Regions from separate parts of the Homo sapiens genome. Here regions 1 and 3 are each linked to region 2. The links come from fine-mapping of genetic effects on gene expression. A gene starts in region 2. Each other region holds a variant in brackets. All regions are shown on one strand. Distances are from middle to middle.

The links.
Region 1: its variant is fine-mapped to the expression of PAPLN-AS1 in whole blood (INTERVAL, PIP 0.96).
Region 3: its variant is fine-mapped to the expression of PAPLN-AS1 in whole blood (INTERVAL, PIP above 0.99).

What each region holds. Positions count from the first base shown.
Region 1 is chr14:73,085,526-73,095,759 of GRCh38, forward strand. RBM25 (RNA binding motif protein 25) reads left to right here. Exons shown (of 19, transcript NM_021239.3): 6 at 2,476-2,636. Among named protein-coding and RNA genes, the nearest start is that of RBM25-AS1, 31 kb to the left of the region's middle. The variant C/T (reference allele first, on the strand shown) is at 4,805.
Region 2 is chr14:73,241,068-73,251,301 of GRCh38, forward strand. PAPLN-AS1 (PAPLN antisense RNA 1) reads right to left here and starts at 4,934. Exons shown (of 2, transcript NR_135248.1): 1 at 4,457-4,934; 2 at 2,951-4,177. PAPLN (papilin, proteoglycan like sulfated glycoprotein) reads left to right here. Exons shown (of 27, transcript NM_001365906.3): 3 at 3,577-3,692; 4 at 4,569-4,629; 5 at 5,006-5,108; 6 at 8,917-9,047; 7 at 9,840-9,963. It also overlaps the pseudogene RNU6-419P. RefSeq lists silencers at 4,769-5,038, 7,507-7,586 and enhancers at 5,986-6,055, 6,194-6,695.
Region 3 is chr14:73,073,651-73,083,884 of GRCh38, forward strand. RBM25 (RNA binding motif protein 25) reads left to right here. Exons shown (of 19, transcript NM_021239.3): 3 at 2,669-2,718; 4 at 3,719-3,886; 5 at 9,844-9,901. Among named protein-coding and RNA genes, the nearest start is that of RBM25-AS1, 19 kb to the left of the region's middle. The variant G/A (reference allele first, on the strand shown) is at 4,254.

The sequences.
Region 1 (10,234 bases), 160 kb before region 2:
CCTCCGCCTCCTGGGTTCAAGTGGTTCTCTTGCCTCAGCCTCCTGAGTAGCCAGGATTACAGGCGCCCACCACCATGCCTGGCTAATTTTTTGGTTTTTTTAATAGAGGCGGGATTTTGCCCTGGTTGCCAGGCAAGTCTTGAACACGTGACTTCAGGTGATCCGCCCACCTCAGTCTCCCAAAGTGCTGGGATTACAGGCTTGAGCCACCATGCCTGGCATAGAGGCATATTTAATACAGAATAGGCAGGATAGATGCACTGGCTTGCTTTCTTAAAACAATGAGTTGCTATCCTCAGCATTCTCTAGCAGTGACTGATTTTCTTTTTTCTTTTGAATTATTGTGAACTTAGGAATTGAAGCATATTTAGTGTTATTGTATTTAATATGGATTCATTGTAGTTATTATCACCATTAAAGCTTAACTTAAATTGTCTCTGCACTTTACATCTCCAGTGGTTTTGACATGACCCTGAACACCTTTGACAGCTGCTTTGTTATCTGGTATGACAATTTGTTCTAAGGTCATCTAGTATAATAGGTTTTCGGCCCCAGACTTAGAATCAGCCATTTCTCCAGGGGAAATTGTTTTGAAGATCACGATCTGGACACTAGGTGCACTCATATTAACAGTGGTTTGGGATGGGTGTGGTGGCTCGAGCTTGTAATCCCAGCACTTTGGGAGGCTGAGGCAGGCGGGTCAAGAGATCAAGACCATCCTGGCCAACATGGTGAAACCCTGTCTCTACTAAAAATACAGAAATTAGCTGAGTGTGGTGGTGCGCTCCTTTAGTCTGAGCTACTCAGGAGGCTGAGGCAGGAGAATCGCTTCAACCCGGGAGGCAGAGTTTGCAGTGAGCCGAGATTGCACCACTACACTCCAGCCTGGTGACAGCGCGAGACTCCGTCTAAAAAAAAAAAAAAACAAAACAGTGGTTTGGTGTTTGCTTTTAGGTTTTTCCAGTGTATACTAATTCAGATTCAGGACTAAAAGGTTTTTATTTAGCCTGTTTTGTCATATATTTGTATCTCCTTTTTCCCCACACTGAGGTCCCCGAGTTTCAAGGCCATTGGGGATGATAAACTATTAATTACTGAGTTGCTTTATCTTGCATTGCACATATAACAGTTTCACACTAACAACATTGACACTATCATCAGCAATATGATCATTTAAAATTACTTTTCTTTTTTTTTGAGACAGGGTCTCTGTCTGTTGCCCAGGCTGGAGTGCAGTGGGGCAATCTCAGCTTACTGCAACTTCTGCCTCCCGGGTTCAAGCAATTCTCCTTCCTTAGCCTCCCTAGTAGCTGGGACTACAGGCATGTGCCACCACACCCAGCTAGTTTTTGTATTTTTAGTAGAGAGAGGGTTTCACCATGTTGGCCAGGCTGGTCTGGAACTCCTGATCTCAGGTGATCTGCCCGCCTCTGCCTCCCAGAGTGCTGGGATTACAGGCATGAGCCACTGCGCCCGGCCTAAAGGTACTTTTTTGAGGGGCATATCTGTTTGTCTTTATGGTATATCACACTGAAATGTCAAATTTACTATTTTAATATCAGTAGTTTTTTTCTGTTTCCTGTCATTATATACATATTTAGATTTATTTGATTTTATTTTCAATTTGTTGGTTGCTCTTCTTAGATTTAATTTTGTTTTAATATTTCTGTTAAAGTCATCTTAATAGTGAGATTGACTAGTTATAAAAGGAAATAGATGTAAGTAAAATAGACTGGTAACTAGGATACAAATTCTGTAATTTAACATCTCAGAATTGAAAAGTGCATTGTTTGTGTTCCTGCAGTCTGTTCTTTCTTGTGGCTGTTTGGAAGTCTAGATAGGGTGAATTTATGAAATAATTGACTCCTTTCTTTTTTTTTTTTTTTTTGAGACGGAGTCTCGCTCTTTCGCCCAGGCCGGACTGCAGTGGCGCTATCTCGGCTCACTGCAACCTCCGCCTCCTGGGTTCACGCCATACTCCTGCCTCAGCCTCCCAAGTAGCTGGGACTACAGGCGCCCGCCACCGCGCCCGGCTAATTTTTTGTATTTTTAGTAGAGACGGGGTTTCACTGTGTTGGCCAGAATGGTCTCGATCTCCTGACCTCGTGATCCACCCGCCTCGGCCTCCCAAAGTGCTGGGATTACAGGCATGAGCCACCGCGCCCGGCCAATTGACTCCTTTTAATCATGAATTTCATTGACTCTGCTAAATATTTTATTAGAGCTTCTAATGAGTAGCAGTTTGTCTGATTTGAATTTTTCTTCCTCTCTGTTTTTCCCTTTTTTTCCCCTTTGGTTGTTTGAGGATACTAAAAGTGAAATGGTTATCAAAGGGAATTGGTGGACAGGGGTGGAATTATGAATTGAGTGGTCTTTGTATTAAAACATTTGGACTCTAGTGATTCTACTTTTCCATAATTTTTTTTCTTTTGTAAGTGAATTGGTATTTCACTAATTGTTTTCATCCATTGCTAGCCTTCGGATTCTGTGAGTACAAGGAGCCAGAATCTACCCTCCGTGCACTCAGATTATTACATGACCTGCAAATTGGAGAGAAAAAGCTACTCGTTAAAGTTGATGCAAAGACAAAGGCACAGCTGGATGAATGGAAAGCAAAGAAGAAAGCTTCTAATGGGGTATGTTTTCTGTCGTGTTATCTTTTCTAGGCCAGACTGTGCTATTTCAGTGTAGTGCTTCTCATTATAAATGAATCTAATATGGGGCTTCAAAAGATCATCATGTATGTGCTTGTGGCTTAATGTAGGAGGGTATTTTATAGTTTGTAGTTATTTTAAGTCTTATCTGCCCATAGTGGGTGGATGACTGTTGGTTTGCTTGTTCCAGGTTGGGATGAAAGTAGTAAGGGAGGCTGGACAAGGTTAACTTGCCAGAGAAAGCACTGGTACAGACTATTCCAAACAGAGCTAATTCATTAAGGCAGCTTTGTAAGTAAGTACAAAATATATTTCAACCTACACAATTTTTATTAGTTTCCCTCTCTTTTAGAAGTACACCGACTCTAAAATGAATGAAAGTCTGATTACTTGCCTTAGGTTGGGGGCTTTATCCAAGCTCTACTAAGTGAAGCTAAAATAAAGGACATTGTTGTATATTGTATTTTAATGTATACATTATTACCTCCTCAGCAAAGTGAAACATAGCTAAAACTTGAGTATATATTTCCTTCATTTCTCTTCTTAGTTCCTTTTTGGCATCTCATGCTGAACAAATCCAAAATAGATTTATTAATGCCTTCCCCCAACACAAACAAAACCAGAAGAGTCTTTCGCTGTCGTCAAATTTTTATTATCTTTCAAAATAGAAATCGCTTTTTGCTGGGCACGGTGGCTCACGCCTGTAATCCCAGAACTTTGGGAGGCAGAGGCGGGCAGATCACCTGAGGTCAGGAGTTCGAGACCAGCCTGGCCAACGTGGCGAAACCCTGTCTCTACTAAAAATACAAAAAATTAGCCTAGCGTTGTGGTGGGTGCCTGTAATCCCAGCAACTCAGAGGCTGAGGCAGGAGAATCGCTTGAACTGCAGAGGCGGAGGTTGCAGTGAGCTGGGATCTAGCCATTGTACTCCAGCCTGGGCAACTAGAGTGAAACTCTGTCTCCCTGCTGCCAAAAAAGAAAAAAGAAATACCTTTCATGTTCCCTCCAAGTTCTTTGTTAAAAAAAAATAAAAACCAAACCCAAAAAACTCACAAAATGAAGCAAAGTATAAATAATCAATTAAATACCACCTGTAATCCCATCATCATAAGCAACACTGTAGGCGGTTTGGATGTATGTTCTTCCAGACATTTTTCTGTGTATGAATGTGGTTCATTTGTTTTTTGTTTTTTTTGAGACAGAGTCTCTCTGTCGTTCAGGCTAGAGTGCAGTGGTGCGATCTTGGCTCACTGCAACCTCTGCCTCCCGTGTTCAGGTGATTCTCCTGCCTCAGCCTCCTGAGTAGCTGGGATTACAGGCATCCACCACCACGTTCAGCAAATTTTTGTATTTTTAGTAGAGATGGGGTTTCATCATGTTGGCCAGGCTGGTCTCGAACTCCTGACTTCAGGTAATCTGTTCTCCTTGGCCTCCCAAAGTGCTGGGATTACAGGTGTGAGCCACCACACCTGGCCAAATGTAGGGTTTTGTTTGTTTGTTTGTTTGAAATGGAGTTTCCCTCTCTTGCCCAGGCTGGAGTGCAGTGGTGCGACCTTAGCTCACTGCAACCTCCACCTCCCAGGTTCAAGTGATTCTCCCTCCTCAGCCTCCCAAGTAGCTGGGATTACAGGTGTCCGCCACCAGGCTCGGCTACTTTTTGTATTTTCACTATGTAAGTGAGGCTGGTCTTGAACTCCTCACCTTAGGTGATCTGTCTGCCTCAGCCTCCCAAAGTGCTGGGATTACGTGTGAGCCACTCCACCCGGTCAGCATTGCCTGTATTTCTAAAACATAAGTATAATTTTATGAAACTCTTGCTTATATTATGTGAGACCCATCCTTAATGGTTTTGGATTTCTTACAGAAAAAAGTACCCCCCCTCTTTTTTTTTGATGCAGTCTCGCTTTGTTGCCCAGACTGGAGTGCAGTGGCGAAATCTTGGCTCACTGCAACCTCCACCTCCCAGGTTCAAGCGATTCTCCTGCTTTGGCCTACCGAGTAGCTGAGATTTTAGGCACCCGCCACCACCCCCAGCTAATTTTTATGTTTTTAGTAGAGGTGGGATTTCTCCATGTCTTCCAGGCTGGTCTTGAGCTCCTGACCTCAGGTGATCCACCCACCTCGGCCTCTCAAAGTGCTGGGATTACAGG[C/T]GTGAGCCACCGTGCCCGGCCATAAAGTCCATATTTTTAGGATGACATTCAAGGCTCACTCCAGTCCACGTTTCTAGCTTCCGTCTTCCCTCCCCTGCACATACTACTGCATGTACCTCCACAGTCTTCCCTTTTGCTTTGCTGGCATCTCATGTCTTTGTTGCCTATCCAAGCTCCCTGTTGAAATTCTATCCATACTTATAATTAACATGTCCCTTGATTCATACAGACTTTATCAGCCTGCCCTTAGTTTCTGTCAGACAGAATTAAGTCCTCTGTTCCCATATAAAGCAGATCTTTATAGCTGTTTTAGTAGATATTGTTTATATATCTCTCTCTTTCACAGCCCCTTGTAACCCATCTCATTCCCATATTCTCTTTCAACCCCCATCTCTGATTACAGATAGAAAGGGTGATAAGTTTGTGGGCTGTGTCTCTTTAATCTTGTACCTCCACAGCATCTAGGACAGTGTCTTGCCTAAAGCAAGGATGGAATTAACATTTGTTAATAGACGCTTATCTGTCAGTCTTACTATCCTCACCCTGCTTCATAAGGAAATTATATTTTATTTATATTTTATTTCAAATCAGTAATACTGCCTGTCACATCACTAAAACCTCAAAAAACAGAAATGTTTGAAATAAGAATTTTCAGGTTTGCCTTGTGATAACTGTATACTAACTAGTTGAAAGTATGGATTCAGTATCTTCAAAGTGTTCTGATTTGCTAGGACTCACTGTTTTCTTGTGTTTAATCTTCAGTTTGTGAGGTCATTTAATTTGTAGCATTTGCAAATGTTATACTGAAAAACTCTGAGAATGAAATAAGTCACTATACTACGTATTTTTATAAATAAGGAAGTGCACAATTATGTGACTTCACATTTCTTGCTTGCTTGCTTTTTTTGGGGTGGGGACAGAGTGTTGCTCTGTCACCCAGGCTCGAGTGTGGGGTGGTGTGATCTCTGCTCACTGCAACCTCCTATTCCCAGGCTCCAGTGATCCTTCTGCCTCAGCTGGGACTACAGGTATGCACCACCATACTGGCTAAGTTTTATATTTTTTGTTGAGATGAAGTTTCACTGTGTTGTCCAGGCTGGTCTTGAACTCCTGGGCTTAAGTGATCCACCTACTTCAGCCTTCCAAAGTGCTGGGATTACAGGCAGGAGCCACTGTGTCCAGCTTACATTTTTTGTATAATCAACATTAGCCAGAGTAACCACACTTTAGATCTGTTGGTCTTCAGGAAAAGCAATATGTGTCTGGATGTGGTGGCTCACACCTGTAATCCCAACACTTTGGGAGGCCGAGGTCGGAGGATCACCTGAGGTCAGGAGTTTGAAACCAGCCTGGCCAACATGGTGGAACTCCATCTCTACTAAAAAAAAAATACAAAAATTAGCCGGATGTGGTGGTGCACACCTGTAATCCCAGCTACTTGGGAGGCTGAGACAGGAAAATCACTTAAAACCCAGGAGGCGGAGGTTACAGTTAGCTGAGATTGCGCCACTGCAGTCCAGCCTGGGTGACAGAGTGAGACTCTGTCTCAAAAAAAAAGCGAAGTTACATGCAATAAAATCACACAGAAAAATTATTTTTAATAAAAAATTAAAACAATTGACAGATATCAGTTATATGATTTATTGTTCCAACTGTTATATGTGTATTTCTGAGTGCCCTTTGGCTTCTTGCCCGGTGGTACTTGAAGTCATAGGATAAACATGGCATATTTTCCTTAAGTGTCAATATTACTCAACAAATATAGGTTAAAAAAGCATTCTATCTGATGTAAAAAAAAATTTTCAAATAACTTAAGCAAATATTACTATATAGTGGAGTAGATTAGAGATTTGCCATGATTTTTTTTTTAAGGGTGGTGGGGGGTGTAGGGAGAGATGAAAGTCGGAGAGTGAGAGATTGGAGGGAGGGAGCAGGGGGAGGGGAGAAGATGGTGGGGGTGAGATGGGTGGCTACTGCCGCCATGATTTTTCAGTATAAAAATATGACATGGTGATTGTTTTTTATTCTTGGTCGTTGATTAGTTGGAGAAATTTAGAAAGCTGTTAAGTAGAGGATAGGAGAATGAGACATTGAAAACCCTTTGTGTTGCTTTATTAGGCATTTTCCTCTGAGGCAGAAGAGAAAACAATTAGTTCCTTATTTCTCATTGACTAAAAAGGAAACATGAGTTTGTCTAGGGGAGCAACATATTTTTCATGATCCAGAATTTTTTTTTAAATTTTCTTGCCTTTTTTTTTTTTTAATTAAGTTTTAGGGTACATGTTCACCACGTGCAGGTTTGTTACGTATATATACATGTGCCATGTTGGTGTGCTGCACCCATTAACTCGTCATTTAACATTAGGTATATCTCCTAATCCTATCCCTCCCACCTGCCCCCCAAAATTTTCTTTTTTTTATGAGATGGGGTCTCGCGTTGTTGCCCAGGCTGGTGTCGAACTCCTGGGCTCAAGCAGTTCTCCTGCTTCGGCCTCCCAAAGTGCTGGGTTTACAGGCATGAGCCACTGTGCCCAGCCAGATTCAGAATTTTAAGAAGAATTTTGCGCATGTGTAAGGTGTCTTGTCAAACAACTTGACTGAACATTTTAATTTAGATTTTGCAGAATTTGCAGGTGTAACTTTTTTTCTTTCCATTTCTTATTGACCTCTAGTAGTAAAGTATTCCATGTGAGGTGGCCATGCTAATTTAGTTCATGTCCTATTGCTTTCTGGCTGTCCAGCAAAAATAGTATAGGAGACAATATATCTGCTTGTATGTCACAAGTCATAGTTATTAACCATATATTCAAGAATGAACACTGACAAGTGCTGGAAAAACAGTTATTCTCTGGAAAGAACCTATTTAATAGAGGACAGCTGCTTCAGGGGAACATCTTTGGAAATTAGCCTGGCTGAGTACATTTTCTCAAAAGAAAGAACTCTGCATTTCCTTAAATTTTTTAAAAGGTTCGTACTTTGGATTCTAGACCTCAGTGCCAAAGAATGAGCCCAGCAGAGCTGTTTAACTTCACAGCTACTAGCTTTACTATTGAAATTTTAATTTCTCTGAAAAGAACCAACTAGGTGGGCCATGTAAACATTACAGATAATCTGTCAGCTTCCTATATGGCTGAATCCTTCACCTTTTGTTTCCCAGTATTACTGATTATGCTTTCTGGTTTCTCCCTCTCTGCCCACCGAAGTCTCACTCTTGTCGCCCAGGCTGGAGTGCAATGGTGTAATCTCGGCTCACTGCAACCTCCGCCTCCTGGGTTCAAGCGATTCTCCTGCCTCAACCTCTTGAGTAGCTGGGAGTACAGGCACCCGCCACCACGCCTGGCTAATTTTTTGTATTTTTAGTAAAGATGGGTTTCGCCATGTTGGCTAGGCTGGTCTCAAACTCTGGACCTCAGGTGGTCCACCCGCCTCGGCCTCCCAAAGTGTTGGGGTTATAGGTGTGAGCCACCGCACCCGGCCATCTGGTTTCTGAAGTATAAGAAAAAAACAGGAAATCAGAAAATCGTGTATAGTTGATATTCCAGAGATAGAGCTTTAGATGAAACTTGCCAGTCTGTGGAGTGGTCTTTCTAACCTGATCATCTACCATGATCAGGTTTTGTTTTTTTTTTTTTTTTTTCTTGAGACAGAGTCTCACTCTGTCGCCCAGGCTGGAGTGCAGTGGCGCGATCTCAGCTCACTGCAAGCTCCGCCTCCCGGGTTCACGCCATTCTCCTGCCTCAGCCTCCCGAGTAGCTGGGACTACAGGTGCCCGCCACCACGCCTGGCTAATTTTTTTTGTATTTTTGGTAGAGACGGGGTTTCACTGTGTTAGCCAGGATGGTCTCGATCTCCTGACCTTGTGATCTGCCTGCCTCGGCCTCCCAAAGTGCTGGGATTATAGGTGTGAGCCACTGCATCCGGCCTAGGTTTTTTGTTGTTGTTGTTATTGTTTTTTTTTTAAATATTAGCAATCAGTTAAGATTTTTGGGTTAATAAACTTTTCTTCTAAAAATGTGAATTAGTTAATTCCAAATGCTTTATCTCTAATAGTAAAATAGCCATATTGATATTTAAATTTTGGTTTACAGTGGAAACAATAATCAATTTAGGGTCTATAAGGATTTTTTTTGTCTTTTGAGACGGAGTCTTGCTCTGTCGCCCAGGCTGGAGTGCAGTGGCGTGATATTGGCTCACTGCAATCTCTGCCTCCCGGGTTCAAGCCATTCTCCTGCCTCGGCCTCCCAAGTAGCTGGGACCATGCCCGGCTAATTTTTTGTGTTTTTAGTAGAGACGGGGTTTCACCATGTTAGCCAGGATGGTCTCCATCTCCTGACTTAGTGAGCCGCTGCACGCGGCTGGGGAATTTTTGTATTTTTTTAGTAGAGACGGGGTTTCACCATGTTGGTCAGGCTGGTCTCGAACTCCTGACCTTGTGATCCGCCCGCCTCAGCCTCCCAAAATGCTGGGATTACAGGAGCGAGGTGTGTGTGTGTGTGTGTGTGTGTGTGTGTGTCTGTGTGTGTGTGTGTGTTTTTGATGGGGGTGGAGACAGAGTCTCGCTCTGTCTCCCAGGCTGGAATGGAGCAGCATGATCTCTGCTCACTGCAGTCTCCACCTCCTGGGTTCAAGCAATTCTCTTGCCTCAGCCTCCTGAATAGCTGAGATTACAGGCACATGTCACCATGCCCAGCTAATTTTTTGTATTTTTGGTAGATGGGGTTTCACCATGCTGGCCAGGCAGGTCTCGAACTCCTGACCTCGTCATCTGCCCACCTTGGCCTCCCAAAGCGCTGGGTTGCAGGCGTGAGCCACCGAGCCCTGCCAAGTGGTTAGTTTTGTAATAACATGTAATGCCTTATATTTAAGTTATCTGTGTCATAACCCATCTGTTACTCTGTAGTGATACAGCTTGAGGAGAAGAGAGCGTTTTTCAATTTGGATTTTATTCCGTCTAAGTGCAGCATCTTTCTCACAGTATGCTCTTAAGAATTTGTTGATGGGTGTGGTCGTCACGCCTGTAATCCCAGCACTTTGGGAGGCTGAGGCGGGCGGATCATGAGGTCAGGAGATCGAGACCATCCTGGCTAACACGGTGAAACCCCCATCTCTACTAAAAATACAAAAAAATTAGTCGGGTGTGGTGGCGGGAGCCTGTGGTCCCAGCTACTCAGGAGGCTAAGGCAGGAGAATGGTGTGAAACTGGGAGGCCAGAGCTTGCAGTGAGCTGAGATCACGCCACTGCATTCCAGCCTGGGCAACAGAGCAAGACTCCGCCTCAAAAAAAAAAAAAGAATTTGTTGAGCAAATTAATTTAAGAAATAAAATGTTTGTTGAATACGTATCCATTGGAGACAGCTTTCAGAATGCTTGTGGTCAACTTATAAAGTTACTGCTAAGTTACATTGTTAAGGAGGCACAAGGCATGAAACT
Region 2 (10,234 bases):
TGCAGGGGTGTGTGGGGCAGGCAGGATGGATGGCAGTGGGCACTTCTCCCACTAGAAGTGGATCCCATAGATGACACTTCAAGAGCCCTGTGAACCCAACATGGGCCACAGCTGGAGCGGTGGGTGGGCTAGAGGCAGCCTTTTTCATGTCCTCTCGACCACCTGCCAGCTACCCACGGTCCCCTCTGCCACCCCATGAATCTTGCTTCCTAAATGCCACTCTCAGGTCCTTCACCACGTGCTGGTGGCCCAGCTGCATGAAGGCCAAAGCCCAGGTGGAGGGGGCACGAGGACAGCGTCCAGGCCCCAGGATTAAATCCCAGAGCCACCTGGACAGCTGCATGATCCTAGGCAAATAAGCCTTAGACTGCTCTAATTTGGGAGTAATAATGCCCACCCCAGAGGTTGTCATGCAGATGAAACAAATCAAGGTTTCCAAAGCGCCCTTGGTTCTCTTAAACCTTTTCTCCCTTAAGGCCACGCTGAGTAGCCTCATCCGGCTGCCACCTCCTCCCAGTGAGTCTCAGATGGGGCTGGGCGCAGCCTGGGCTGAGAATTCTTCTCTCCCTGCCCTCTGTGAGTCTGCAGGGGGTGTGGCCCCGCTCACAGCTCCACTGCCTCCCTCTGTTGCTGGGGCAGGAACCACCCAGTCCGAGCACCTTCTCTGGATCACTTATGCTGTCAGCGGTCAGTCTGAACAGAATGAGTAAATGAATAAAGGTGGCGGCCTGCGTGTTCCTGGGCCTCAGCCTCTGCTCCCGTCTGCACACGGGTGTGCATGTGTTCTGTCTCTCTCTTACACACGTGCACATTGGGCAGTTGATTCCCCTGGAAACAGTGCAGCAGGAAAGGGGACCCCTGAGTGGCTCCAGGTGGGAGTTGAAGGAGGCATGGGTGGGGCGCCTAGCGCAGCATGAGACAGGTGAGGGCAGGCCCCAGGTGAGGCTGGCTGTATCAGCTCATTCCGGCTTCACGCCATGTCGGGCAGTTCACGGTTTGGGTAATTACAGAGCAAGAGTGTGCTCATGCTGCCTGTGGCTGAAGGTGCTTTCCTTCCTTGGAGAGACAGTGTGGAGTGTGTGGACAGAGCACGGCTCTAGGATGGGACGGACTAGGGCTCCTGGCTAGTGGACACCTGCCTTACAGGTGCTGGGCACAGGAGGCAAGAGGGCATTCTGGAAACAGCATGTCCCTTAGGGGGCCCTTGTTCAGGCCAGTCCTGCCCCTGCCTTATCCTGATGGCCAGGCTGTGGCTCCATGGCAGGGGTACCCCTTGGCCACACACCAGTACACCCAGCCCAGCTCCAGGGAAGGGTGGATTTTGCTGGCTGCTGTGCCAAGGAGCCAAGACAGACATCCAAACAGGCCTTAGTCAGAGGGTAATTGACAACCAGGCCCAACCCAGCAGCTAAGAAAGCAGCCACCCCTGAAGACCTCTCCTGAATACTTAAAATGTGGGATGAGGCTGTGTGTGGGGGGGGCGGGTGCCAGAATCCCAGCTGGGGCTGCAGGCTGTCTCTGGAAAGTCACCCTTCACGCTCAACACTCAGTGTCTTCCTTGTGAAATAGAAACTTGATCCAAGTAAATTTCAGTTTAACTTTCATTCAGAGAAAACTTTGATATTTTGGCTCAGTGGTTTCGAAAGCTTAGAGATTTTTGTCCAAGTTAGACTTGAAGGAGTAGATATTTTACAAAGTGAAAGCTAAGACCTCTCATCTGGCAAGCCCTTCCTTCTTGGTTGTGTGTGGTTCGGCAGGCTTAGCGTGGTTTGTGCGTGGTTTGTTCTGCTTCAGTGTTCTGGGTTTTGTTATAAGACAAGGATAACTAGATGTTTGGCACCAGGGATGTTAGAGATGAGTAAACGTCCTTCCTCACCTGAGATTCAGCGAAGCTGCTCAGGGGTCACCATGAAAGCAAGAGCCTGCTTTTCTTTTCTTTTTTTGAGATGGAGTCTCACTCTGTCGCCCAGGCTGGAGTGCAGTGATGCAATCTCGGCTCACTGCAACCTCCACCTCCCGGGTTCAAGCAATTCTCCTGCCTCAGCCTCCCGACTAGCTGGGATTACGGGCACCCGCCGCCACGCCTGGCTAATTTTTTGTAGTTTTAGTAGAGACGGGGTTTCGCCATGTTGGGTAGGCTGGTCTCGAACTCCTGACCTCAGGTGATCTGCCTGCCTTGGCCTCTCAAAGTGCTGGGATTACAGGCATGAGCCACCGTGCCCGGCTGCTTTTCTGTGTGACCATTGAGCTCTTTCTCTGAAAAGTGGGAATGGTATTTTTCCTTGAGTCTTAAGTGGTGATACCCTAAAAGAAAGTCCCCTTCCAGCAAATGTTTGCATGTACACCATATGCCTCCTGGGAAAATTGTGAAGTTACATCTAATCCCTGTCCAACCCTGTAGGGAATCATCTAGTGTCTCATTTGATTCCCCCAGGTGGGTGGGGGCACAGCCTCGGCAGGGGAGCAGAGGACTGCAGTGAGGCTGGCCGGCTACTGTGCCCACTTCTTCCCCTGTGGTTTCCTCTCTCTGCCTCACTTTTCTTATTCATGCAATGGGGTCTGTCGGGTTGTTGTGAGGATGAAATGAGATAATGTGTGTGTGGCATGTGGATTCCTGATGCCAGCTGCAAGGGGTCCAATCTTTCTGGTGGGAAAGTGTACCTGCTAGGATTATAATCCTGTGTAGAGTCCCAAATAACAGTTCTTCAATAAGACAGACATGATTCCTCTCTCATATAAACACCCAGGGGTCAGAAGTCTGGGGCTATTCTGTTGCACAAAATCCTCCAGGCTCTAGAGTCCCTCTATCTTTGCTTCACTGTTTGAAGCCTCTATTTCCAAGTTACCTCACAGTCTAAAAGGCTGCTCCAACTCCAGCCATCACATCTGCTTCCCAGACAGCCTGAAAGAGTACAGGAGGAAGGAGAAAAGGACAAAGGCTCACGCAGGCTCTCTCTTGAGGAGATTATTTGCGGCAGCTGCCCAACACTTGTATTTACATCTCACTGATGAGAACTAAGTGATGTAGCCACAGTTAGCTGCAGGCAGTCCAGGAAATGTATTTTTTTTTTAAATTTTGGGCAGCCAGGTACCCAGCTGAGTCAAGTTTTCAAGCATTCTCTCACAATGGGAGAAGGAGGGGATGAATATTGGGGTACTCCTGGGAGTCTCGGCCAGATTAGCAGGATCCCCCCACGTTGCTTCCCTTTATTTTCTTTTAGGCCCCCCTCCCCTACATCACGGTTAACCTACAAATGCCTGGACCCTCAAACTGCCCCTGGCTGTAGGGTCCCTCCCCTCCAGTGGCCCCTGAAACTCCAAACTCTTCCCAGCTGCTCCTGCTCCCGCCCTCCAGGCCTGGCTCTCAGCTCCTTATGAGGAAAGCAGGCTAATTCTGAAAAGGAATATGTTTTGGGGTGCCCGGCAGTGTTGCTGAGTCCTAAAGGTGGGCCCTGGAAGGGAGAATCCCAGACTCCTTGATGGGTAGGGGAGGGTTTTAGGCAGAGCATCTTTGGAGGGGCCTCTGGGCTCAGGCTGTGAGTGGGCAATGCTGATGCATGGTCCTGTCTTCTGCAGGCTCCCAAGGTGAGGCGGCAGAGTGACACCTGGGGACCCTGGAGCCAGTGGAGCCCCTGCAGCCGGACCTGTGGAGGGGGTGTCAGCTTCCGGGAGCGCCCCTGCTACTCCCAGAGGTAGGAGAGATGAAAATGGGCCAGCTTGTTAAAGCAGGAGCAGGGGATGCTGCCTTCTGGGTGGTGGGCTAGGTGGTCGTGGCCTAGGCTAGCACTGGCCACATCAGCAGAACCCACCAAGGAGCAGATTCATTCTGGAAGCAGCATCAGTTCAGCGCAGGAAATCAAACCATTTCCCAGGGCCTTCCACTCTGAGCTGGAGCACGCGTGCTGCCTGTTGCCCCTGGTCTCCAGCTCCTGATGCTGCACCGGCCTGCAGTATGGCAGGTGCAGTCAATTTTGCTGGAACTGGTAAATAATCTTCAACCGGCAGTTCCCAATTCCTGTGGTTTCTTTACCGAGTACAGATGTTCCCCACTTCAAGCGATTTATTAAATGCTTGCTGTGTGTGCTGCACTCCGGCAGGGTCAGTGGAGAAGGTGGGGCACAGAAGGAGTAGTGAGGTGCCTCTGTCCCGGTTTGTATAGGGGTTGTTCCTGAGAACCCTATGTGAGGAGGAATGAGAGACCAGGAATGATCCTAAGAGCCTTATACTGATGTCCTGCTTAGATCGCAGGATGGCTGTGCCAAGCGGGTGGGTATTATATCTCATGCACCTCGGGTCTTCTCTGGGAATCTGCCTAAGATGCAGTGGAGTGGTCCCGCCTTAAATCCAAACTATAGGGTGGGTAGGGCTCTGAGTCCCGCTTCTCTGGAGTACCAACATGGGTCGCTCACTCCCACCTGGGGGATTTACGGGGTGGGGTCGGGGGACACCCTCTCACCTTGCTGCTCCCACTGGAGAGTCCCGCAGAAGTTGGGGCCTGCAGAGAGCCCCAGAACGGGGGCAGGGACGTTGGGTCTCGGTCAGGTCTTCCCGGTGCTCTGGTCCCGCAGGAGAGATGGAGGCTCCAGCTGCGTGGGCCCCGCCCGGAGCCACCGCTCTTGTCGCACGGAGGTAAAGCTCACGGGGCGCGGGCGAAGGCACCAGCTTCCCCAGCCCCTCCTGGCCGATTTCCCCATTGGGATGCCCGCTCCTGGCCGCGGGCTGCTGGGTTGGCCCAGCCTGGGGTCCTCCCGCCAATCCACAGCAGGGCTGCGTGGGGGCCCCTTCCTCACCCTGCTCCCGGGGACTGGCCTTGCCCTCCACAGCCTAGAGCACCATGGAGGGGCACGCACAGGAGTTCGGGGGTCCGGGGGGCGGACTCCACCTCCGGCGGCTCCGATGGGGCAGGCAAGGGAGACTCCTGGGCTCCCTGGGCTCGGGCGGGGCGGGAGGTGGGCGGACCTCGGACTCCGCCCTCCTGGATCCCGACTTCCCCTCCGCCCCGCAGAGCTGCCCCGACGGCGCCCGGGACTTCCGGGCCGAGCAGTGCGCGGAGTTCGACGGAGCGGAGTTCCAGGGGCGGCGGTATCGGTGGCTGCCCTACTACAGCGGTGAGCGCGGCCGGGACTCGCTCTCTCGGGGCCTCTTGTATACCTACGTTGATGCCACAGTTCCTATTGCCGTATTATAGAGGCGTTGTCATATATATATATATTAGAGACAGTCTCACTGTGTTGCCCAGGCTGGTCTTGAACTCCTGGGCTCAAGGGATCCGCCGGCAGCGACCTCCCAGAGTGCTGGGATTGCAGGCGTGAGCCACTGTACCCGACCAATTTTTTTTTTTTTTTTTTTTTTTTTTTTTGGGTGGGCGCGGGGGCTCGCAATGTACAGGAAATCTTGTAGACCACAGGACCCACCTTTGGGGAGGAGAGGGTCTGCAGAGGTCCCTCGAGAGAGAGCAAGAGGTCTCTCTTTTTCTTTATCTTTTTTTCTTTTCTTTCTCTCTCGTTCTCTCTCGCTTGCTCTTTTTTCTCTCTTCCTTTCCTTTCCTTTTTTTCTTTTCCTTTTTCTTTCTTTCTTTTTTTTTTTTTTTTGAGACAGGATCTTGCCCAGGCTTGAGTGCAGCAGTGTCATGTCAGCTGGGCAGCATGTACCTCCCAAGCTCAATCAATCCTTCCACCTCAGCCTCCCAAATAATTTTTAAAGTAAATATGGAATGCTTCATGAATTTGCATGCCATACCAGCTAAGGGGGCAGGGGCTGTGCTAATCTCTGTATCGTTCCAATTTTAGTATATGTGCTGCCAGAGCCAGCATTTGTCAAATACCCCATCGATCAACCCATAATGAATCAATCACCAGTACCCCTGCTCCCCCCAGCACATGCCCGTGGCAACACCATGGCAGCCATTTTGAGGTCTTTCCATCCTTTCTCCCCTTATGTATGTATATTTTCAAACGAAGCTATGGTGTGTCTATACCATTTTGAGCCCTGTTTTTGCTCAGTCTGCTATGGGAAGCGTTCCTCCCGTCGCACAGAGACGGAGATGGGGAACCCCGGGAGCGGTAGCAATGGTGCCCCACGGTCATCCTGCAGGAGGGGCTGGAAGGGGCTTGGTACACCAAGACTTCATTTATCAAGGATCTGGGGGCCAGAGGAGATGGTCTGTGCACCTCTGAGGAGGGTATAAGTCATTAATTTTTAGAGAAATACAGTTCAGGGAAAAAACACCCAGGTAAGCACCAACATGTATGTCATTAAGCATTTTAGATGAATCAGAAGATTCCTCAAGACAAGTCTTCTGAGTGTTCGTTTTCCCTGCTTGCGGCAAATGACCTCTGGAGACCCTGTGGCACTCTAGATTCCAGATCAAGGAGCACTTATATTCTCTCTGTGTGTGTGTGGTGGGGATCGTGGCTGTGGGCATGGCCCAGTGGGAGTCTCATATCCTGTGTATGTGTGTGTGTGTGTTGTGGGGATCGTGGCTGTGGGCATGGCGCAGTGGGAGTCTCATGTCCTCTGTGCGTGTGTGTGTGTGTTGTGCCGATCGTGGCAGTGGGTGTGGCCCAGTGGGAGTCTCTTATCCTGTGTGTGTGTGCGTGTGTGTGTGTGTGTGTTGTGGGGATCGTGGCTGTGGGCATGGCCCAGTGGGAGTCTCATGTCCTCTGTGCGTGTGTGTGTGTGTTGTGCCGATAGTGGCAGTGGGCGTGGCCCAGTGGGAGTCTCTTATCCCGTGTGTGTGTGTGTGTGTGTGTGTGTGTGTGTGTGTGTGTGTGGTGGCGATCGTGGCTGTGGGCGTGGCCCAGTGGGAGTCTCATATCCTCCGTGTGTGTGTGTGTGTGTGTGTGTGTGTGTGTGTGTGTGTGTGTGTTGTGGGGACCGTGGCTGTGGGCATGGCCCACTGGGAGTCTCATATCCTCTGTGTGTGTGTGTGTGTGTGTGTGTGTGTGTGTGTGTGTGTGTGTTGGGATTGTGGCTGTGGGTGTGGCCCAGTGGGAGTCTCATATCCTCTGTGTGTGTGTGTGTGTGTGTGTGTGTGTGTGCGCGTGTGTGTGTTGTGGGGATCGTGGCTGTGGGCATGGCCCAGTGGGAGTCTCATATCCTCTGTGTGTGTGTGTGTGTGTCTGTGTGTGTTGTGGGGATTGTGGCTGTGGGCATGGCCCAGTGGGAGTCTCATATCCTCTATGTGTGTGTGTGTGTGTGTGTGTGTTGTGGGGATTGTGGCTGTGGGCGTGACCCAGTGGGACTCTAGCTTTCAGAATTCCCCCTGGATCCTGAAGTGGACACATGTCAAAAATAATTTGATTATAGTCACATGATAGAAAAATTGGAACACAGGGGAAAGTCTAAAAAGAGAGTAGAGGGATACCTTCCATGGTATGGAGATGATTATAATCCTGTTTGTACTTTTGGGTTGTTTTAAAATGTGTATATATTTAGATAAATATAAAAATTAAGGTAGGGTACAGTGGCTCATGCCCGTAATCCCAGCACTTTGGGAGGCTGAGGCAGGAGGATCACTTGAGTCCAGGAATTTGAGACAAGCCTGGGCAATGTGTGAAACCCCATCTCTACCAAAAATACGAAGATTAGCCAGGCATACAAAGATTAGCTAGGCATGGTTGCACACCCATGTAGTCCCAGCTATTCGAGAAGCTGAGGTGGGAGGATCACTTGAGCCCAGGAAGTTGAGGCTGCAGTGAGTCAAGATCACACCACTGCACTCCAGCCCGGACGACAGAGTGAGATCTTGTCTCCAAAAGAAGAAAAAAAAATTAAAACCAGGCCAGGTACAGTGGCTCCTGCTTGTAATCCTGGTGCTTTGGAAGGCTGAGGCAGGAGGATCATTTGAGCCCAGGAGTTTGAAACCAGCCTGGGTATCGTAGTGAGACCCTGTCTCTACAAAAAATAAAAAAATTAGCTGGGTATGATGGCATGTGCCTATAGTCCCAACTATTCGAGAGACTGAGGCTGGAGGACCACTTGAGTCTCGGAGGTAGAGGCTGCTGTGAGCTTTGATCGTGCCTCTGCATTCCAGCCTGGGAGACAGAGTGAGATCCCATCTGAAAAACATTAAAACCAGAAAAAAGTTATCCTCATCCTGCCCCTTTCACAAGATCACTGTTAGCATTTCATTTTAGCCCCTTTCACATTATTCTCTCCATATATGCTTACATATTTGTAATTATTGCATAGTAATCACCATTTTGCATTCTGTGTTTTAAGCATCTTCCCACACCATATAGTCTTCACAATCATCATTTGTAACTGCATAGTCAGCATGTGTAATATTCCATTGATAATTTATTTAAAGAGTAGCCTGTTATGGCCATGCACAGTGGTTTACACCTGTAATCCCAGCACTTTGGGAGGCTGAGGCAGGTGGATCACCTGAGGTCAGGAGTTCGAGACCAGCCTGCCCAACATGGTGAAACCCCATCTCTACTAAAAGTACAAAACTTAGCCGGGTGTGGTGGCGCGTGCCTGTAGTCCCGGCTACTAGGGGGGCTGAGGCAGGAGAATTGCTTAAACTAGGGAGGCGGAGGTTGCAGTGAGTCGAGATCGTGCCACTGCACTCCAGCCTGGGCAACAAGAGCGAGACTCCACCTCAAAAAAAAAAAAAAAAAAAAAGTAGCCTGTTGTAACCACCTCAGCTGTGGTAAATAATGCTGAGGTAGACTTCTTTAAGTGTTTCACTTTTTCCTGATTCTGGGATTTTTCTTCGACTTGATCCTTAGAGGTGCAACAGATTCATGGAGACGGTCCCTTCTCCTGGGGATGGGGCGGGGATCTGTGCTCTGCGGGGCCTGCTGCAGGGCTTTCTGACCCATGCTTTCCTGTTGCTAGGGTAAGCCTTGGGTCTTGGGGAGGGGCATCATCAACCTCAGGATCTCAGTCTTGCCTTCCTGCCCACCCCAGCCCCAAACAAGTGTGAACTGAACTGCATTCCCAAGGGGGAGAACTTCTACTACAAGCACAGGGAGGCTGTGGTTGATGGGACGCCCTGCGAGCCTGGCAAGAGGGATGTCTGTGTGGATGGCAGCTGCCGGGTGAGTGGTGCCCCAGCCCCTCCCTGCCTCCGGGCTGCCTGGGGGCTCAGTGCGGGTGTTTCCCTGTCCATCACCCATAGGCCCAGGTAGCTGCCATGAGCTTGGTGTCTTCTCAAGTTACCAGGACACCAAGCCCAGCTCCTAGGGTACCTTGCAGGCATCACAGATGCCCTATGGCCCCTCACCTTCATCCTTGGAGAACGCTAGCCCTACAATAAGAGAAACCCTCTGGGTGGCAGAAATCCGGCTAAAACCGACTTCAGAAAAACAAACAGCAGGGACAGCCGCAGGCGCATGAATGAGGTGCCACTCGGCTTTCCTCTCCTTGGGTCCAGCATCAGGATCTGGCCCATTCTTCCCAGGAGGTGTGGAGGTGGCCGCCAGCTGCTCCGACCTTCTGCTCCCTAGAAAGGGAATTCCCAGGGAAAGGGGGCCTCATTCCCAGGAGTTCTAGCCACCGGGGGTTGTCTCTGATTCGTCTTGGTTTGGGACTTACCCTGAACCACTCCAACCTCCCCAAACCCACATTTGGGGAGCTCCGTTCAAACTCTGCGGGAGAGAGGTGGCCCCTCAAGGAAAACAGGGCATTATTACCAGAAGGGGAGATGGGAGCTGAGCAGACAGAGAAGTGGATTGTCAGCCACAGGCCAGTCCCCTGGCTGGTGGCTGAATCACTCCCGACCACCCTATCCTGCCTGGGCTGCGTGGGTGCTGGGGTTAGGATGCGACGGGGCCCAAGGCCTGATGTGGCCATGATGCCGTCTCCCCTGCCTCCCGCATCTCTGCCCACAGGTTGTCGGCTGTGATCACGAGCTGGACTCGTCCAAGCAGGAGGACAAGTGTCTGCGGTGTGGGGGTGACGGCACGACCTGCTACCCCGTCGCAGGCACCTTTGACGCTAATGACCTCAGCCGAGGTGGGGGTGGTTCCGACAAGGGGCAGTTGCCTGCCCCCTTCCTTGCCTGTCCCTTCCTTGCCTGTCCCTGCTCTGGCCTAGACTCCAGGCCAAGTGGCCCTCATGGCACTGGAAGGCTCTGATCATATCAGGTCACATCTGAAAGGCCCCCTGTGGCCTTTGGTTAGGACTCGTGCCCGCTCGTGCAGTCCCATCTCCTGCTGCCACCGCCTGGATGCCCTCCCCATCCCTTCCCACTCCCAGTGTGCTCCGGGTGCCCTGAGCCTTCCCG
Region 3 (10,234 bases), 170 kb before region 2:
GCACTCCAGCCTGGGCAACAAGAATGCAACTTTGTCTCAAAAAGAAAAAAAAATCAGAACAACTGTTTATGCATGTATATTATGGAATAGAATGCAGTACTTTAATAAGCTATTTTAGACATTATGCTTGTAGTGGAGCTGCTTTACGCTGTGCTTCTAGATAATCATGGATGTATATTTGTTATCATCTGCTGCCAGAAGAGTAATGTAAAAGTTTACACTACTGCTTTATTATCCCATGTAACAATTACTGATTTTAAGTAGTAACTTAGTTGTTTTATAATGGACCATAAATAGACTAAATTCTACTGGAAGGCTCTAGCTGGCCCTTTGGACAAAGTTTTTTCTTAAAATGAATTTTGCTGAAAGGAAATTCTATTGAGAAAATTGAGAAAATGTTGCAGAAAACTGAATAAAGTTAGTTATCAGCCATCAAACAGATTAATAGTTATAGAAGGAAAGTGTTTTGAACAACTTTCATTTGGGCTTCAGTTTTCTCTTTGGTCCGTATATCCTGATTTTCTTCATATATTTATAGGCTCATAATGCAGTTCTGGGTTTTAATTTTTAATTTATTAATTTTTTTGAGACAGGATCTCTCTTTGTCTCCCAGGCTGGGGGTACAGTGGCATAACCATAACTTAATGTGGCCTCTATCTCCTGGACTCAACTGATCCTCCTGCCTCAGCCTACTGAGTAGCTGAGACTATAGATGTGTGCCACCATGACTGACTCAGATCCGTTTTTCGATGGGCCTTACCATAACCATGATGCAAAGCCCGAGTGTTCTAGAAGTTATAGGCTGGGCATGGTGGCTCATACCTGTAATCCCATCACTTTGGGAGGCTGAGGGCAGGAGGATTTCTTGAACCCAGGAGTTCAAGATCAGCCTGGACAACATAGGGAAGAAAGACCCTGTCTTGTGGGGAGGTGGGGGGTGGCAGTAAGCTTAATTGCTTGTTTAGAATCAGAAAAGATGGTTATGGAGAATCTGTGCTTTAATTTCCTTACCAGTAGATTGGGTTTATAGAAAAGATTTTAAATTTCTTTGATTTTTTTTTTTGTTTGTTTTGCTTTTTTTGAGAGAGTCTCACTCTGTCGCTGGAGTGCAGTGGTGCCATTACAGCTCACTGCAGTCTCTGCCTCCTGGGTTCAAGTGATTCTCCTGATTCAGTCTCCCTAATAACTGGGATTATGAGTGTGTGCCACCATGCTCGGCTAATTTTTGTATTTTCTGTAGAGATGGGGTTTTGCCGTGTTGGCTCAAGCGATGTGCCTGTCTTGGCCTCCCAAAGTGTTTGGATTATGGGTGTGAGCTACCGTGTCCCCTCACTCCCTGCCTTTTTTTTTTTTTTTAAATAAAGAAATGGAGTTTTGCTATGTTTCCTAGGCTAGAGTACAGTGGTTATACACAGGCACAATGCTAGCACACCGCAGCCTTGAACTCCTGGGCTCAGGGATCCTTGTGCCTCAGCTTCCAGAATAGCTGTAACTACAAGCATGATTTTATTTATTTATTTATTTTTTTGGTACAGAGTCTTGCACCTGTCCCCCAGGCTGGAGTGCAATGGTGTGATCTCGGCTCACTGCAACCTCTGCCTCCCGGGTTCAAGCAATTCTGCCTCAGCCTCCCGAGTAGCTGGGATTACAGGCACGCACCACTACGCCTGGCTAATTTTTGTATTTTTAGTAGAAACAGGGCTTCTCCATGTTGGTCAGGTTAGTCTCAAACTCCTGACCTCAGGTGATTTACCCATCTTTGCCTCCCAAAGTGCTGGCATTACAGGCGTGAGCCACTGCGCCCGGCCCATGATTTTTATTTTCTGCGAAAGAGCCAGGAATAACAAGATTCTTCTTAGATTTACACATAAATTTCTCATCTCATGCTTAAAATAACTGTCAAAAGATTTGTTTTTACTTTATTTGACAAAATTTTATATGTTTATCATGCACAACGTTTTGAAATAACATATGTTGTGGAATGACTAAATTGAGCTAATTAACACTTGGTGTATTACTTTACATACTTATTTTTTGTTGTTGTGAGAACACCCTAGATTTTAAGTGGAGATTTTCTCTTAGTTATTTTCAAGAATATAGTACACTTACTAACTGTATCACCATGTTGCACGACGTGTTTTACCTTTTTTTTGGTCTTTTTTTTTTTTCCTTTTTGTGGAGAACGGGGTCTCACTATTTTGCCCAGGCAGATCTCGATCTCCTGGGCTCAATCTGTCCTCCTGCCTGTGCCTCCCTAAGAGCTGGAATTACAGGCGTGAGCCACCGTGCCCAGCTGTTTTTACTTTTAAAGGATTCTTTAATAGCATTGTTCACCTATAAGTCAGTCTGTATTTGTGAAAGGCATTGGTTTTGAGGATCACCGAACCACATGAACCCGAATGGATAACTATCCAGGATTTTATGCTCTTTAAGTCAAAAGCATATTGAGGTGGCCATTTTGTTTTCAGGATAGTCTTTTTTGTAAGTTTATATGGACCAACCTGATACCACATTCCTTTTGAAAATAAGATAGTATTTATCAGTATTTCACTTTCATTTGTCTTATATTTCCACTTATGTTAATTATGAGTAAGGATACTTAATTGTGTGGCATGTTGTTGATAGAGAATGCAGTCATGTAAAATCAGTGTGGTTTTTCTTTTCTTAGGGACCCCAATGATTCCTGTACCAATGAGCATTATGGCTCCTGCTCCAACTGTAAGTATAACTTAAAGGAGGAATCATGAGTTATGGTAGTGCTAGTGCTTTTAAGCTGAACAGCATGATAAACTTAGATAAATTATGAGTATTTAAAAGAATAACAAGGACAGAATGACAGCACCCCTGTAGAGCATATCATTTATTTGAATAAGTATCATTTTCACTTAGGTGTGCATATATGCAGTTGCCCTTGCAATGTGCTCCCTAAGTAGATAATTCTATGATTTTCCTGTTACTATCTAGACTCTTCATATACTTGTTATTACAAATTTAGGACTTTGGCTCTTCATTGCCTTCTCATCTTGGTCCTGGGAGATGGGAGAAGGATGTGACATGTCTGATCTCTTAAAAGAACATAGGAATCCTTGTAAAAATTAAAATTTTGAAATGAAATTTGTGTGGACTACCTTTTACATGTTTCCTCCTACCTTCCTAAGGTATATGGCCTAAGGCATAAATTTTAAATGTTCAAGACATAGGCCAGGATCACCTGAGGCCAGGAGTTCAAGACTAGCCTGGCCAACATGGTGAAACCCTGTGTCTACTAAAAATACAAAAAATTATCTAGGCTTGGTGGTGCGCGCCTGTAATCTCAGCTACTCGGGAGGCCGAGGCAGGAGAGTCCCTTGAACCCAGGAGGCGGAGGTTGCAGTGAGCCGAGATTATGCCACTGCACTCCAGCCTGGGCGACAGAGCGAAATTCCGTTTCAGAAAATAAAAGTAAAAATTATGTCTTAAACATAACAAAGTTTTCTTGGTTATTTTTGTTTCTTTTTTAAGAAGAAAGGTAATCTAGTAGTAGAAGTTTACTTGTCACAAATAAGTTTGCATTAATGAAATGTGCTATGCACTTTAGGAGCTTTAGAAGTATACAAGCATGCAGAGCTTAAATAATGTGCTATATATATTTATTTAATCCTGATGTTTTTAGCCTAATGTTAATTGTGGTAGGAAATTTAATTGCTGGATCAATTTTTATTTTGTTTCTTCACCTTAGGTCTTAGTACCCACTGTGTCTATGGTTGGAAAGCATTTGGGCGCAAGAAAGGATCATCCAGGCTTAAAGGCTAAAGAAAATGATGAAAATTGTGGTCCTACTACCACTGTTTTTGTTGGCAACATTTCCGAGAAAGCTTCAGACATGCTTATAAGACAACTCTTAGCTGTAAGTTAAACTGTTTATTTTTCATTAAAAATTTTTTTATCATTCTACATTTCAAACTTAAGCAGAAAGAAGACTTTCAGTGATTGCTTTTTATTTTAAAAAATTTCAGTCCTGCAGCAAAGGTGAAAAAGTACAGTGAACACGTTTGTATTCTTTTCCTAGATTCACCAATGAACATGTTTAGATATTTTATGTACACATGTGTACCACACACACTTTTTTCTTGGATAATTTGAAAGTAAATTGTGGCATAACATTTCACCTGTGAATCCTTCATTTATCTCCTAAGAGCAAGGACATTCTGCGACATAATCACAATGCCACTATCACACATGAAATTTGGCCGGGTGCAGTGGCTTTTGCCTGT[G/A]GTTGTCATCCTAGTCCTTTGCAAGGCTGAGGCAGGAGGATCTCTTAAGCTAGGAGTTCGAGACCAGCCTGGGCAACATATCGAGACACATCTTTACAAAAAATTAAAAAATAATAGGGCCAGATGCAGTGGCTCATGCCTGTAATCCCAGCACTTCAGGAGGCCGAGGTGGGCAGATCATTTGTGGTCAGGAGTTCGAGACCAGCCTGACCAACATGGTGAGACCCTGTCTCTACAAAAAATACAAAAATTAGCCAGGCGTGGTGGCGTGTGCCTGTAATCTCAGCTACTCGGGTGGCTGAAGCAGGAGAATCCCTTGAACCCGTGAGATGGAGGCTGCAGTGAGCTGAGGTCGCGCTACTGCACTCCACCCTGGGCGACAGAGCGAGACTCCATCTCAAAAAAATAATGACAGGGATTAAAAAATAAAAATAAAAAAAAAGCCAGGTGTGGTGATGCACGCCTGTAGTCCTAGCTGTTCAGAATCCGAGGTGGGAGAATTGCTTGAGTCTAGGAGTTGAAGGCTGCAGTGAGCTATGATCTTGTAATTGCACTCCAGCCCGAGCAAGAGAGTCTCTAAAACAAAAAAATATATAAAATTGATATAATATTGTTAACTAATGCACATGTAGTTCATATTTAATTTTCCCAGTAATGGCCATAATATTAATAGTTGTTTTATTTTTCATCCATGATCCAATGAAAGATTTTTATTTACTTTTGAGACAGATTTGCTCTGTCACACAGGCTGAATGAAGTGGTGACATCTTGGCTCACTGCAAACTCTGCCTCCTGTATTTAAGTGATTCTCATGCCTCAGCCTCCCTAGTAGCTGGGATTACAGGCGCGTGCCATGACACCTGGCTCATTTTTGTGTTTTTTTAGAGACAAGGTTTCATCATGTTATCCAGACTTGTCTTGAACTCCTGGCCTCAAGCAAACCGCCTGCGTTGGCTTTCCAAAGTGTTGAGATTACACGCGTGGGCCACCACACCTGGCTAGGGTTAATATTTTGAGACTGTGAGTCCTTTTCCCCAATGATGTTAAACAATGATTTTAGCATCCAATGATGATTGACTGATTCCTTTTAAAGTTTTATTCTGAGCTTGAATAGTAATAAGTTGTTTAAATTTGGTAAGCTTGTTGATTCACTTTTTTTACCTTTTTAAGATTTTATCTTGATGATACATGTACATTGTTAAGTGAAATAATGCTGAATGATTGTATAATAAAATAAGGCCAGGTGCGGTGTCTCACACCTGTAATCCCGGCACTTTGCGGGGCCAAGGTGAGTGGATCACTTGAGGTCAGGAGTTTGAGACCAGCCTGATCAACATGGTGAAACCCCATCTCTACTAAAAATACAAAAATTAACCAGGCGTGGTTGTCGGTGCCTGCAATCCCAACTACGCGGGAGGCTGAGGCAGGAGAATCATTTGAACCTGGGAGGCGGAGGTTGCAGTGAGTTGAGATGGCGCCACTGCACTCCAGCCTGGGTGACAATGTTAGACTTTGTCTCACACACAAAAAAAGGAGTTTGGAAGAATGACTATATTCTGCACTGAGAGGATCTGCAAAGATGTCATTCTTCGTCTGTATCCCAGAATCTTGTGTAGGTTCTCTGTAAGGACAGGGCCAGGGTTATCTCAACCTGTGGTTCACCTCATGAGTAGTTCAGTATGAGTCCTGCAATCTTGCCATCCTCTGGAAATATTGTTGCCTGCTCTCCTTATGCCCCTCTGAGATGCTGGGCAATTACTTTACATCATTCATGATTCTTGTTCCTCAACTATTCATATTTAAGAAATTCCTGTTCTTTTAGAAGACTGGATCTCCTGGGCACTCTGTAAGTTTTAATTAACTGGTTTGAGGATGTTTTGGGTTTCTCAGTTTTGTTTTCTTCTATTACTTCCATGGGATTTTTGGTAATTTCAGTCTGAAGCCTGACTCCATTTTTATTCTTGAGTTTTCTCCTGGGCTTCTTTTCACTGTAGCCACAAGGCCTAATCTGAGGTCTGCAGAGAACTAGCACTTACTCTGCTCTAATGGAATTCAGGAAAGTCAGAAGGTACTGGAGTATAGAAATGTGTTTGCTCCTGTCTGCTTCTGGAAGTCTCTGTTTTGCTATGTTATTACTGCTAATGTTTTCTCCCTAGGTGTATGTGAAAAGATTCTCATCACAAATTCTCATAGAAGTGCCGTTTCTGAGTCTTAGGGCATGCTTATCTGCAGCTTTACAAGATAATTCCACACCAATTTATTTATATTTACTGCAGCAGTGTCATGTCCGAGTTTCTATTCTTACACATCTTTTTTTTTTTTTTTTTTTTTTTTTTTTGAGATGGAGTCTTGCTCTGTCGCCCAGGCTGTAGTGCAGTGGCACCATCTTGGCTCACTGCAAGCTCCGCCTCCTGGGTTCATGACATTCTCCTGCCTCAGCTTCCCAAGTAGCTGGGACTACAGGCGCCCGCCACCATGCCCGGCTAATTTTTTGTATTTTTAGTAGAGACAAGGTTTCACCATGTTAGCCAGGATGGTCTCGATCTCCTGACCTCGTGATCTGCCCGCTTTGGCCTCCCAAAGTGCTGGGATTACAGGCGTGAGCCACCGCGCCCGGCCCTCTTACACATCTTTTTTAACAATTGGTGTTTATTTAGAATTTTACATTGTGTTGTGAAATACCTTATTCCTATTTCAATATGCCTTTTTACTGTTCTTCATAATTTTGATATTATCTGTTGACATGTTATGGTAGCTTGAGGCCTAAACTGTTAAAGGCCTCAGTCTCCCTTCCCTACTTCCTTACAGGTGTTACAAGATGGCGAACTTGATAATAAGTATTATTATGTAAATAGTTTTAGCAGAACTAGGTTATGTGCTATGATTGTATTTTCTTTCTTTGGTTTGTTTTCTTTCTTTCTTTTTTTTTTTTTTTATTTGAGATGGAGTCTCACTCTGTTATCCAGGCTGGAGTGCAGTGGCGTGATCTCAGCTCACTGCAACCTCGCCATCCGGGGTTCAAGCAATTCTCCTGCCTTAGCCTCCCGAGTAGCTGGGATTATGGATGCCTGCTACCACACCTGGCTAATTTTTGTATTTTCAGTAGAGACGGGGTTTCACCAGGTTTGCCAGGCTGGTCTGGTACTCCTGACCTCCAGTGATCTCCCTGCCTCAGCCTCCCAAAGTGCTGGGATTACATGCGTGAGCCACTGCCTAGTCCATTTTCTTATTTTAATTTTTTATTTTTTATCTTTGAGACAGAGTCTCGCTCTGTTGCCCAGGCTGGAGTGCAGTGGCACGATCTCAGCTCACTGCAACCTCCGCCTCCCGGGTCAGTGATTCTTCTGCCTCAGCCTCCCAAGTAGCTGGGATTTCAGGCACCCGCCACCACGTCCGGCTAATTTTTGTATTTTTAGTAGAGATGGGGTTTTACCATGTTGGCCAGACTGGTCTCGAACTTTTGACCTCAAGTGATCCACCCACCTTGGCTTCCCAAAGTGTGGGGATTCTTTTCCCTTCTTTTCTAGAGCTCCTCCTGTCAGGTCCCTTTGTTCGTCTCATGTGTTCTGGTTCCTCTAAGTCTACTTTTATCCTTGGATTTTTTTCTGTCTTTTCTAGTATTCCCCTTATTGCTGTTCTGTGTTGGGTGGTTTGGATCCTATATCTTGCTTGTGCCGACACATAGTAGTTCCTGTTATATTGGGATGATACATCCTCTGTATATGATGTACATGGTATATATGGGTATGTGGTTGGTAACTTTTCTGAATCTAAATCTGAAGTGCTTTTTATTTCATGTGGTCAGTAGTTTACCGGGATATAGAATTCGGTGATGAAGCTTATCTTCCTCACATTGAAGGTGCTGCCTTATCGTGTTATAGCATCTAATGATGGTTTTCAGAAGTCCCGCATCATTCTGAATGCTCTTTGTGTGTGAACTGTTTTTCCCTGGAATGCCTCTCCTAGTGAGGATTTGACTGATTGGAGGTTTTAGTTCCTAATTATGTGAAATTCTTCGAATGTTTATTTGATTTTCTTATTTTTCTTATATCATTGTGTTGGTCACTTACTTGGTGGGCCATTTCGTTCTGGAGCCTTTTTTCAGGAGAAAATTTTGAGCTATTTGAGAATTCTTTTTACTTTCTTCAGGAACTCTGTTTGGATGTTGAGCTTCCAGGTTTGACCTATGTGTTTTTGATTTCCTATTTTCCATCTCTTACTATTTTGCACGGGTTCTTGGGATTTGTCCTTAACTTTACCTTCCAGACTTACATTGAAATATTTATTTTTAATGCCATGTTTCAAGTTTCCATTAGTTTTCTCTTGTTCTCTGAAGATTTCTCACCTACACCCTCCTCCTTCTGTCTTTTTTTTAACTGGATGGAACTTTATTTTATTTTTCTTTTTTGAGACAGTCTCATTCTGTTGCTCAGACTGGAGCATAGTGGCATGATTACAGCTCACTGCAGCCTCGATTTCCTGGGCTCTAGCCATCCATCCGTCTCATCCTCCTGAGTAGCTGGGACCACTGGTGTGTGCCACCACGCCCGCCTAATTTTTTTGTTTTTGTAGAGACAGTGTCTCCCTATGTTGCCCAGGCTGGTCTTGAACTCCTGGGCTCAAGCAATCCTTCCACATCAGCCTCCCAAAGTGTTGGGATTATAGACGTGAGCTACACCTCGCTGCTTTTATTTTTAAAGTATAATAGTGTCCTACCGTTCAGATAACCTGCCCTCCTTCACATTTTGGAATATTTCTCTTTATTTTTACAGAAAGCTGTTTTTGTTTATAGTTAGAGTCTTGCTGTGTATCTGCATTTTCTTTTCCCAAGTTATTTTTGCATACCGTATCAAGCGTTTTCCCATGTTAATGGGATGGCTGGGCGCAGTGGCTCGTGCCTGTAATCCCAGCACTTTGGGAGGCTGAGGCGGGCAGATCACGAGGTCAGGAGTTCAAGACCAGCCTGGCTAATATGGTGAAACCCCGTCTCTACTAAAAATAAATAAAAAAAAAAAAACAAAAAACAATTATCCAGGCGTGGTGGTGCCTGCATGTAGTCCCAGCTACTTAGGAGGCTGAGGCAGAAGAATCGCTTGAATCTGGGAGGCAGAGGTTGCAGTGACCCAAGATCACGCCACTGCACTCCAGCCTGGGTGACAGAGCGAGACTCCGTCTCAAAAGAAAAAAAAATCCTTTATAAATACATACATATTGTTTCAAAACATTTCTTTATAGATTCATAATATTTACTTAAATTTATTATAGTTTGTTTTAACCATTCTAATTTTAGGCATTTAGGTTTACGTGTTTATTTTGTTAGGATAAGTAGTGATGCGAAACTTTTAATAAAAGGTAAACAATGTTCTGCAAATGAAGAATCAGTAAGAATTTATATTTTTCTTTAAATGATTTGTTGTTCATTTCTTTCATGTGATAAGTTTGTGGGAATTGCAAAAATTTTCGCAAATGTAGTTGCTGGTTTTTTATTTTATGTTTTTTATCCCTAGTAGAAATATAATTTTGCTTTTAGTTACATTAAAAATTATTTTGTTAAATGGTAGCAATCTGTTTGTTTTGTTTTCTTTTTAAGAAATGTGGTTTGGTTTTGAGCTGGAAGAGAGTACAAGGTGCTTCCGGAAAGCTTCAAGGTATGTCATTTTTTTCCTTATTTGCTGAAATCACTTTAACTAACCTGTGTGCTTAAATCACTTTGCATGACTTAACTCTCATTGTCTTTATCAGTAAGACTTATTTTATTAGCACTCTTTGTCCTCTTTTTTATTGAAATAGGGTTAAAAGGCAGTTTGGGAAAATATTGGCTGAGAATTGAGATCAGAAGGAGGAAAAAGGTGTAAGAGGAAAGGAAAAAATTAAAATTGCTCAATTTAACTGGTTTCTTGTTCTTTCAAAAGTCTCTTTTGTCTCAAGAAATGACTGCATGATCAAAATGGAACAATTAGTAAGGGAGAAGAAGAGACAAT